Regions from separate parts of the Homo sapiens genome. Here region 2 is linked to region 1. Evidence: fine-mapped expression QTL. A gene starts in region 1. The other region holds a variant in brackets. All regions are shown on one strand. Distances are between the middles of the regions.

Region 1 (5,379 bases):
CGCGGTGGCTCATGCCTGTAATCCCAGCACTTTGGGAGGCCAAGGCAGGCAGATCACATGAGGTCAGGAGTTCAAGACCAACCTGGCCAACATGGCAAAACCCCGTCTCTACTAAAAATACAAAAATTAGCCAGGTGTGATGGCGCATGCCTGTAATCCTAGCTATTCAGGAGGCTGAGGCATGAGAATTGCTTGAACCCAGGAGGCGGAGATTGCGGTTAGCCAAGATCACACCACTGCACTCCAGCCTGGGTGATAGAGTGAGACTCTGTCTCAGAAAAAAAAAAAAGAAAAAGAAAAAGAAAAAAAAAAAGAAATTCTAAGTGATAAAGCATTGTGTAACAGTTTGAGGCTGGGCACAGTGGCTCATGCCTGTAATCTCACACTTTGGGAGACCGATTGGGAAGATTGCTTGAGCCCAGGAGTTGGAGACCAGCCAGAGCGACATAGTGGGACCTTCTCTCTACAAAAACATTTAAAAATTAGCCAGGTACAGTGGTGCACCCCTGTAGTCCCAGCTATTTGGGAGGTGGCAAGAGGATCTCTCGAGCCTAGAAGTTGGAGGTGGCAGTGAGTAGTCATCTTGCCACTGCACTCCAGCCTGGGTGTCAAAGGGAGACTCCCCTCTCTAGAAAATAATAAAAAAAAAAGTTTGACAGTTTTCTTGCTTGTGCTACATAAAATAATGGTACATATTACAATTGAAGGCATCTTATAATAGAAATGCCCTTTCCTGTTCCCTTTTAAGGCTGACCCAGTGCTTTAAGAGGCTGATACAGAAGGGTAAAGTTAAGTCTCCACAAAATCCAGGGAAGAGACTGTGAAACTCATCTTAGAACCTTGTATGGAGTCACAGCTGAACTAGGAAAAAAAAAAAAAAAAAAAAAAGGAAAGAAAGGCATTCCAGAGATAAAGAATAGACTAAGGAGAGGAGATATTTGAAGCCATAATGATTGAGAATATGTCAGACTTGAAATGAATCTTCAGTTCCCTCAACAAGACAAATAAAACTAACTCCATACCTAGATACATGGTAGAAAAACTAAAGAATTCTGCTGACCAAGGTATTAAAAGTAACTAAAGAGAAGTGGTGTGAAGAAAGCAAGAGAGAAACAACAAATCCTGTCCATCCTGTAACAATTGAAAATTTCTGGCTGGGCGTGGTGGCTCACGCCTGTAATCCCAGCACTTTGAGAGGCCGAGGCAGGTGGATCACCTCAGGTCAGGTGTTCAAGACCAGCCTGGCCAACATGGTGAAACCCCGTCTCTACTAAAAAAAAATAATAATAATAATACAAAAATTAGCCGGGGGTGGTGGTAGGCACCTGTAATCCCAGATACTCGGGAGGCTGAGGCAGGAGACTCACTTGAACCTGGGAGGCGGAGGTTGCAATGAGCTGAGATCGCGCCACTGTACTCCAGCCTGGATGACAGAGCAGGACTCCATCTCAAAAAGAAAGGAAAAGAAAAGAAAAAATATTAAATGTGTACGCTCTTTGACTCAGCTGTATTACTTCAAGGAGTTGATATCACCAAAATTGCCTAAGTGCTCAAAGGTGTTTGTAGTTAAACAACAGGAGATTGATAAATTATGTTATATACATGTGATGCTATGTTTTAAAGAGGTACTGATATGATAAAAGATGTACGTGGCATAAAATTAAATGTACTTTATTAAGTACTTTTCCAAGTGTTTACGGAATGAGTGCATTTTTGAAAAAAAAAAAGTGTATTCGAACTTTTAAAAAAGCTTTAAAAGCTTTATACAATGAACGATTGAGTGATTATAAGAGCTGGCGGGGGAATGTTAAGAGGATGATAGGGAGCTAAGTTTAACAGAACAATTCACCTCTTTATCTTGTGACACCTACGAGCGCATCAATTCTGTAATTGAAAAATAAAGTGCATATTTGCAGCAGCTGTACTCTCTTCAGGCTGCAAGGAGGCTTTTCCTCCCGGTAGGCTTGATTTGCATTTCACTTTCACTTTCGTGGCTGGAAACTTTCTACCCACGTAGTGGGAGGCTGAGGAGCCACCATAAAGCTGGGGCTTGACGAGCCGGGACCGGGACCCGATCTCCACATATGCCCGGACTTGTTCTGCGGCCGGGTTCAGGAGTCAAAGAGGCGGGGAGACCTGCGCGACGCTGCCCCGCCCTGCGCCCGCTTCCTCCAATGTATGCTCTAGGGGGCGGGCCTCGCGGGGAGCATGGACACGATTGGCCCTAAAGTCTTCCCCGCAAGGCCGTGGGCTGGACAGCGTGGTGACGTCGCAACGCGGCGCAGGGTGAGAGCGCGCGCTTGCGGACGCGGCGGCATTAAACGGTTGCAGGCGTAGCAGAGTGGTCGTTGTCTTTCTAGGTCTCAGCCGGTCGTCGCGACGTTCGCCCGCTCGCTCTGAGGCTCCTGAAGCCGAAACCAGCTAGACTTTCCTCCTTCCCGCCTGCCTGTAGCGGCGTTGTTGCCACTCCGCCACCATGTTCGAGGCGCGCCTGGTCCAGGGCTCCATCCTCAAGAAGGTGTTGGAGGCACTCAAGGACCTCATCAACGAGGCCTGCTGGGATATTAGCTCCAGCGGTGTAAACCTGCAGAGCATGGACTCGTCCCACGTCTCTTTGGTGCAGCTCACCCTGCGGTCTGAGGGCTTCGACACCTACCGCTGCGACCGCAACCTGGCCATGGGCGTGAACCTCACCAGGTGAGCCTCGCGGCCCCGGGAAGCCGGCCCCGGCCCGCCTGCACCTCCGGTGCTTGGCGGGAGCGCTTTCGAGCCTAGCCCTCATTGGCTGGCGTGGGCCATCCGCGCCTTCTCATTGGCCTGCCACGCAGTGGGGTGGGGCCCAGCTGAGCGCGCGGTTCGGAAAAGCCCGCGCTGGCTGCTGCGCGAACCTGCTTTTTCGCGCCAAAGTCACAAAGCGGGTGGTGGCGGGAAAATCAAGGGTTTTTCCGCAGTGCCAGGAACACTGTTCCAGGGCTCTTTGCTCACTAAATCCTGTTGGCCTTGAATGGACGCTTTAGCTGTGGCTTTCTTGTTTCTGAGACGGTCTCGGTGTGTTGCCCGGGCTGGTCTCCAACTTCTGGGCTCAAGCGATCCTCCCGGCTCAGTCGCGGTTGACTTTAAATGCTTTATAATGCCCTTGCGAGAAATGTGGCAGCCTGTCATCCTACTTAGTGGCAGGAGATTGTTTCTATCCAGAAGGGACACTGCTGGTGGTATTTTAGTATAAATACTGCCAGATGCGTCCCAAAACGTCTGCATTAATAATGGCATCCTCCAGCAGTCCGCTTACCCTCCACCAGTTCTGAGACGGCCTGATGGGTGAGAGTGGTAACCCCTTCTAACCGCGTTCGAAATACAGCCCTTCAGCAGACGGCGTTGATTTTAAAGCATGTGTCTCCTGTCTTCTAGTATGTCCAAAATACTAAAATGCGCCGGCAATGAAGATATCATTACACTAAGGGCCGAAGATAACGCGGATACCTTGGCGCTAGTATTTGAAGCACCAAGTAAGTCGTACCTTTTTACCGAGTCACGAAGCTACAGAAAATCAAAACTCTGTGTCAGTATTTCTCAAAAGCATCTGCTTTCTTTTGGTAGACCAGGAGAAAGTTTCAGACTATGAAATGAAGTTGATGGATTTAGATGTTGAACAACTTGGAATTCCAGTGAGTATCAGTTTCTCATTGTAGAGAGTGCTGTACACAGGCACGATAGTTATGTCATAGAATGTTTGTTTATTTTTACAGACAGGGTCTTGGCTCTGTTGCCCAGGCTGGAGTGCAGTAGTGCCATATAGCTCTCTCTAACCTGGGATTCCTGGGCTCAAGCAGTCCTCTTGCCTTAGTCTCCTAAGTGGCTAGGAAGGACTACGGGCCTGTCCCACCACACCTGGCTAATTTTTTCATTTTTGTGTGTGGGCGTGGGGGCAGTCTTGCCCAGGCTGGTCTGGAACTCCTGGCCTCAAGTGATCCTCCTCCGTCAAGATATGTTAATATAATTTAAGCCTACTTCATAACAACTTTTTCTAGAAATATATCTACTGGTGCATGTTTCAAAGAGAGATTTTAGTATTTGGATAGTTGTTCACCACAAGTCTAAAACTCACAGGTTAAATTTATTGTTTACTGCCAGTTGTCTATTTGCATTAACTTCCATGAACCTCTTTTAAAATTTGTTTCCTTCTAGAATGCTTGCTTTTTATTAAGTGGATTTTAAAGCTGACTTGGAAGAAATTTATCCAGGTTAGGTTTATAAACACCAAAGGAGAGAAGAAATGTTTGAATGTTGAAAATGCCTAATATATTCTCTTGCTTTCTTTTAGAAAGTAGTTAGGCCTGCTTGCGCCATCATGATTTCTGTGCCATACTCTAATGTTCTCTTACTTTATCCCTGGAGGATGAGGAGGAGGAGGCTCTTGTTCCCTGGATGGTGCATTTAATAGCCATTTATTTTTTTGAGTGGAGTTTGTTAAGAAATTACGCAAGTCATATTTTAAAGTAATCAGAAAATATTGATTCTGAGTTGTTTAGGTGTTGCCTTTTAAGAAAGTGAGGGTGCCAAATCATTAAATTTCTAACAATTAACTTTTGGAAAATTTTTGTTCTTAATAGGAACAGGAGTACAGCTGTGTAGTAAAGATGCCTTCTGGTGAATTTGCACGTATATGCCGAGATCTCAGCCATATTGGAGATGCTGTTGTAATTTCCTGTGCAAAAGACGGAGTGAAATTTTCTGCAAGTGGAGAACTTGGAAATGGAAACATTAAATTGTCACAGACAAGTAATGTCGATAAAGAGGAGGAAGCTGTAAGTAGTTTTTAAGTAAAAAGAAAATAGTTTGAAGAGAATTATAATACTGCTTATTAGGTTAATTGCTAAAATTAAAAGTAGACAGAATTGGATCCCAAGTAATTTCTGAAAATTGAGATACTGTTGAAATCTGCGAATGATTTATAAGTGTCATCCAATTTAGAATTATATTTGCAAGAAGGGAATACAAATTCAGCACGTGTACATACCACAGAACAGTGGTTTATGGATCAAGTCCACACCGGCTCTTAAGGGTAGGATTGGGAAGTTAGGCGTATAACCTTTAGCTTTCTGGAGATACTTACTCTCTTACCAAATAATTGAGCATAGGACAGCAGCTCAATAGAAGGATATGGTTAGGAGTAAAAGTCTACCTGTTTGGAGCACTTATGTAATCCTAATATTAGCTTACATGTTGTGGGTCCAATTGGTAGCCCATTTTAAAGGTGGAGAAGCAGGCTGAGCAACCTTAAGTGACAATTTAGCCAAAGTCACAGGCTGTAGGAATCAAAGGTTAAACAGGAAGGAGACTTCTCACTAAGGCTAGAAAGCAGACTCCATGCAACTTTGA
Region 2 (5,379 bases), 67 kb after region 1:
TGAAGTCCAAGACCAAGGTGTCAGCAGGGTTGGTTTCTCCTCAGGCCTCTTTCCTTGGCTTGTTGAGATGGCAGTCTTCTTCTATAACTTCACATGGTCTTCCCTTTATGTGTGGTGTCCAATTTTCCTCTTTTTTTTTTTTTTTTTTTTTTTGAGGTGGAGTCTCACTTTGGCTGGAGTGCAGTGGCATGGTCTCGGCTTACAACAACCTCCACCTCCCGGGTTCAAGTAATTCTCCTGCCTCAGCCTCTCGAGTAGCTGGGATTACAGGCACCTACCACCAAGCCCAGCTAATTTTTGTATTTTTAGTAGACACGCGGTTTCACCATGTTGGCCAGGCTGGTCTCGAACTCCTGACCTGAAGTGATCCACCTGCCTCAGCCTCCCAAAGTGCTGAGATTAGAGGTGTGAGCCACTGCATCTGGCTTCTTCTTTTTTGTCACTGCAGCCTCGATCTCCAGGACTCAAGTGATTCCCCCACCTCAGCTTCCCAAATAGCTGGTGGGACTACAGGTGCACACCACCACGCCCGGCTAATTTTTATATTTTTTTATGGAATCGGGGTTCTGCTGTGTTGCCCAAGCTGGTCTCGAACTGCTGGGCTCTAGCGATCTGCCCACCTTGACCTCCCAAAGTGCCGGGATTACAGGCATAAGCCGCTGCACCTGGCCTCCATTTTCCTCTTCTAATAAACACATAAGTCATACACATTAGACCCCACCCTAATGACCTCGTTTTAACGTAATTGCCTCTTTGAAGACTCTATCCCCAAATACAGTTACATTTTGAGGTACTGGGGCTTAGAACTTCAACATATGAACTGAATTGGAGGGGGACACAATTCAGCCCATAACAGAGGGTTTTGGACAGAAGAAGGACTTTGTAATGTCTTAACTGACTTTTTTTATAGTAAATAAGAGAAATGTGGCTGTGTCCTGCCCGGCTCCCAGGCAGCCAGAGCTAATGGTTATCTCCCTTGTTCCCTGAACATCGCTGTTATCCTGTTCTTTCTTCAAGGTGCCCAAATTTCATATTGTTTAAACACACATGCTTTACGAATAATTTGTGCAGTTAATGCAACCATCACAGGGTCTTGAGGCAACATACATCTTCAGTTTACGAAGATGACGGGATTAGGAGATTAAAGTAAAGACAAGCATAGGAAATTTTAAGAGTATTGATTGGGGAAGTGATAAATGTCCATGAAATCTTCACAATTTATGTTCAGAGATTGCAGTAAAGACAGGCCTAAGAAATTATGAAAGTATTAATTTGGAGAACTAACAAATGTCCATGAAATCTTCACAATTTATGTTCTTCTGTCACAGCTTCAGCAGGTCCCTCTGTTCAGGGTCCCTGACTTCCCACAACAATAGCAGAGACAGGGTCTTGCTCTGTTGCCCAGGCTGGAGTGCAGTGGCATGATCACAGCTCATTGCAGCCTTGAACTCCTGGCTCAAGCAATCTTTCTGCCTCAACGTCCAAAAGCACTGGAATTACAGGTGCGAGCCCCCATGCCTGGCTGTCATCTGACTTTTTTAAAGGACCACTTAGGCTGTTGGGTAAGAAGGCAAGGGTATCAGAGCAGAGCCCACCAGGAGATGACTGCAATAATCCAGAGGAGAGAAGAGGGTGTCTTGAGTAGGGGGATAGCAGTGATAAGATGCAGATAATAAGGGGGATCAGATCCTGAAATATATATATATACTTTTTTTTGGAGACTGACAGATATCCGTTGAGGTCAGGAGTTCGAGACCAGCCTGGCCAACATGGTGAAACCCCATCTCTACTAAAAATACAAAAATTAGCTGGGCATGGTGGTGGCCACCTGTAATCTCAGCTACTTGGGAGGCTGAGGCAGGAGAATCACTTGAACCCAGGAGGCAGAGGTTGCAGTGAGCCAAGATCATGTCACTGCACTCTGGCCTGGGGGACTGAGGAGACTCCATCTCAAAATCCCAGCTACTCAGGAAGCTGAGGTGTGAGGATCACTTGAGCCCAGGAGGCCAAGACAGCAGTGAACTGAGATTGCACCACTGCATTTCAGTCTGGGTGACAGAAGGAGGCTCTGTCTCAAAACAAAAC[C/A]AAATAAAACACACACACACACACAGACACACACACACACAAATAAAGGCAATGCGTTAATCTGCGTGGAAATGAGAGGCATGTTATTTGGGAATGTGAGGTAGCCATCCAGTGATGTTTAACAGATGTTTTTACAGCCAACTTTCCAGAAAAAAAAATGCATATATATTAATATACACGTTTATTATAAATTTTTCTGATATAAGGGATATATGGTATACAATTTACAGATGATAAAATATATGTATTTCTCCTTTTTTCCTTTTCCTTTTTTTTTTTTTTTTGACGTAATGTCTCACTCTGTTGCCTAGGCTGAAATGCAGTGGTACAGTCTCGGTTCACTGCAGTCTTTTTTTTTGAGACGGAGTTTTACTCTTGTTGCCCAAGCTGAAGAGCAATGGCGCGATCGCGGCTCACCACAACCTCCGCCTCCCAGGTTCAAGCAATTCTCCTGCCTCAGCTTCCTGAGTAGCTGGGATTACAGGCATGCAGCACCATGCCAGGCTAATTTTGTGTTTTTAGTAGAGATGGGGTTTCTCCATATTGGTCAGGCTGGTCTCAAACTCCTGACTTCAGGTGATCCGCCTGCCTTGGCCTCCCAAAGTGCTGGGCCTCCCAAAGTGCTGGGATTACAGGCGTGAGCCACCGCGCCCGGCCTGCAGTCTTGACCTCCTGGGCTTAAGTGATTCTCCCACCTCAGCCTCCTAGTAGCTGGGACTCCAGGCACGCACCACCACACCCAGCTAATTTTTTTTTTCTTTTTCTTTTTGTAGATATGTGGTTTCACTGGTCTGGAACTCCTGGGCTCAAGTGATCTACCCACAGGCGTGGATTACAGGCATGAGCCACCTTGCCCAGCCTAAAACATACATTTATTTCTAATTCCATATAGCAAGTTGATTCTAACGGAATGTTTTCATTGATTTTTTTTTTTTTTGAGACAGAGTTTCACTCTTGTCAACCAGGCTGGAGTGCAATAGAGTAATCTCGGCTCACTGCACTCTCTGCCTCCCAGGTTCAAGCGATCCTTCTGCCTCAGCCTTGCAAACATCTGGGATTAGCCGAGATCGCACTGCTGCACTCCAGTCTGTGCAACTGGAAACCCTGTCTCAAAAAAAAAAAATACTAGTGAAAATGTTGATAAAAGTATGTCATATCTGTAGCTGTAGCCTTTGCATTGGAATAGCATGAACAAACATTTGAGGAAATGTTCTTCCAGTGTTCATAATCTTTTTTTTTCAGCAAAGAAGTTCTCCTACCTCTGATTAACAAGTGAAGTTCTGAAATATATAGCTCTTGTTTTACTTTGTCTTCTTTGATAACATACATGAAAATATCAACCAACATTCATGTTAGATACCAGAGTTCAGCAAAAATCAGTGAAAGTGGCCAGGCGCAATGGCTCATGCCTGTAATCTCAGCACTTTGAGAGGCCGAAGTGGGTGGATCACTTGAGGAGTTCAAGACCAGGCTGGCCAACCTGGTGAAACCCCGTCTCTACTAAAAATACAAAAATTAGCCAGGTGTGTTGGTGTGCACCTGTAATCCCAGCTACTTAGGAAGCTGAGGCAGGAGAATTGCTTGAACCCAGGAGGCAGAGGTTGCAGTGAGCCAAGATCATGCCACTGGACTCCAGTCTGGGCAATAGAGCAAGACTCCATCTCAGAAAAAAATAAAATAAATTAAATTAAATAAATAAGCCCGGTGGGGTGGCTCATATCTGTAACCCCAGCACTTTGGGAGGCCAAGGCAAGCAGATCACAAGGTCAGGAATTCGAGAACAGCCTGGCCAGTATGGTGAAACCCTGTCTCTACTAAAAATACAAAAATTAGCTGGGCGTGGTGGCGGGCACCTGTAGTCCCAGCTACTTGGGAGGCTGAGGCAGGAGAATCGCTTGAACCTGGGAGGTGGAGGTTGCAGTGAACCAAGATCGCACCACTGCACTCCAGCCTGGGCGACAGAGTGAGACTCTGTCATAAATAAATAAATAAATAAATAAATAAATAAATAAATAAATAAAAATAAATATAAATAATAAAAAATGAGAATACAAAAATTAGCTGGGCGTGGTGGTGGGCGCCTGTAATCCCAGCTCGGCAGTGAGCCGAGATTGTGCCACTGCACTCCAGCCTGGGCAACAGAGCAAGACTCAGTCTCAAAAAAAAAAACAAAATTATAAAACAAATAAATAAATAAAAATAATAAAAACATACAAAAATTAGCTGGGCGTGGTGGTGGGCACCTGTAATCCCAGCTCAGGAGTGAGCCAAGATCATGCCATTGCACTCCAGCTTGGGTGACAGAGTGAGACTCTGTCTCAAAAAAAATAAAAAATAAATAAATAAAAATAAAAATAAAATAAAATCTTTCCCAAGCCCAGGGAGCTTATTCTTAGAGAAGGGGGAAGGATAACGGATTGAGCAGGCATTCCAAAAAGTATTACAACACACTTGGTAGACAAGGAAAAACTCTGAGTCCTTTTAAAAGCAAGCCGAACGTCACACATGGAGAGATGACTGAGATGAAAGGACAGCAGGATAAGTTAGAGGAAAGTTGGATGATATCAAAAAGGATTGCAGGAAAACTAAAATTCAAGAATAGCATTAAAATCCATTTTGGAGGATGACCTTTAAAAAAGCTTGCCTGGAATGTGACAAAAAAGAACAGAGTAACAGACGAAGAGGATCATAGCAGGCAGAGAACACAAAGCTGGGTCAGAGACACAGTGGAAATATCCTTTCTCCCTTTTCTTTTCTTGACATTATTTTGGTTTTGTTAGAGGTGAGGCTGGTGTTAGAGAGGCCAAATTTTGACGATGATGAAAAAGCCGAGGGCACTGGGGGGTTTGGGCTCCAACATCCTTATTCCACTGAACCACGACCCTCAACTGCCTATCCCTAGACATTTCATTATGTGAGCAAAATAAACACCTATTTTAAGTCACTGGTGTCTGAGTTTTCTAAAACATGAATTTCAGACAATTCATGTTCCCTGAAATCCCTAGCTGATATGCTAGCATTCATATAATCAGTGTTTCTCAGGCGAAATCAGAACAAAAAGGATTAAGCCTAATAATTGAAACTATAAGAGAATAAAATTATCCTGAGATAAAGAAATATGCAGATCAAAGAGTTTACTGTCTGCTGAATGAAATTAGTGAGAAGATCTACATTTAAACATGATTCACCAAGGCGGGTGGATCACTTGAGGTCAGGAGTCTGAGACCAGCCTGGCCAACATGGTGAAACCCCATCTCTACTAAAAATACAAAAATTAGCTGGGTGTGGGTGCAC

Direction of the effects. Positions count from the first base shown, and alleles are read on the strand shown. Sizes are in standard deviations (SD) of each study's normalised expression.
In carriers of allele C in region 2, the expression in monocytes of the gene that starts at base 2,317 in region 1 tends to be lower than with A alone (moderate effect, 0.55 SD a copy in Quach 2016).

Evidence for each region. PIP is the estimated chance that this variant, and not a neighbour inherited with it, causes the effect. A credible set is the group of variants that fine-mapping cannot tell apart.
Region 2: its variant is the best candidate, but not a certain one, in a credible set for the expression of PCNA in monocytes (Quach 2016, PIP 0.90).

The regions. Positions count from the first base shown.
Region 1 is chr20:5,116,896-5,122,274 of GRCh38, reverse strand. PCNA (proliferating cell nuclear antigen) reads left to right here and starts at 2,317. Exons shown (of 6, transcript NM_182649.2): 1 at 2,317-2,697; 2 at 3,409-3,506; 3 at 3,598-3,665; 4 at 4,611-4,805. The coding sequence starts at 2,477. PCNA-AS1 (PCNA antisense RNA 1) reads right to left here and starts at 2,689. Exons shown (of 1, transcript NR_028370.1): 1 at 2,306-2,689. LOC124900464 (small nucleolar RNA SNORA26) reads left to right here and starts at 736; the gene lies at 736-858. RefSeq lists enhancers at 1,784-2,233, 2,364-2,533, 1,982-2,862, 2,974-3,123, 2,863-3,743 and a silencer at 2,724-2,783.
Region 2 is chr20:5,049,507-5,054,885 of GRCh38, reverse strand. No RefSeq gene overlaps it. Among named protein-coding and RNA genes, the nearest start is that of SLC23A2, 51 kb to the right of the region's middle. The variant C/A (reference allele first, on the strand shown) is at 2,086.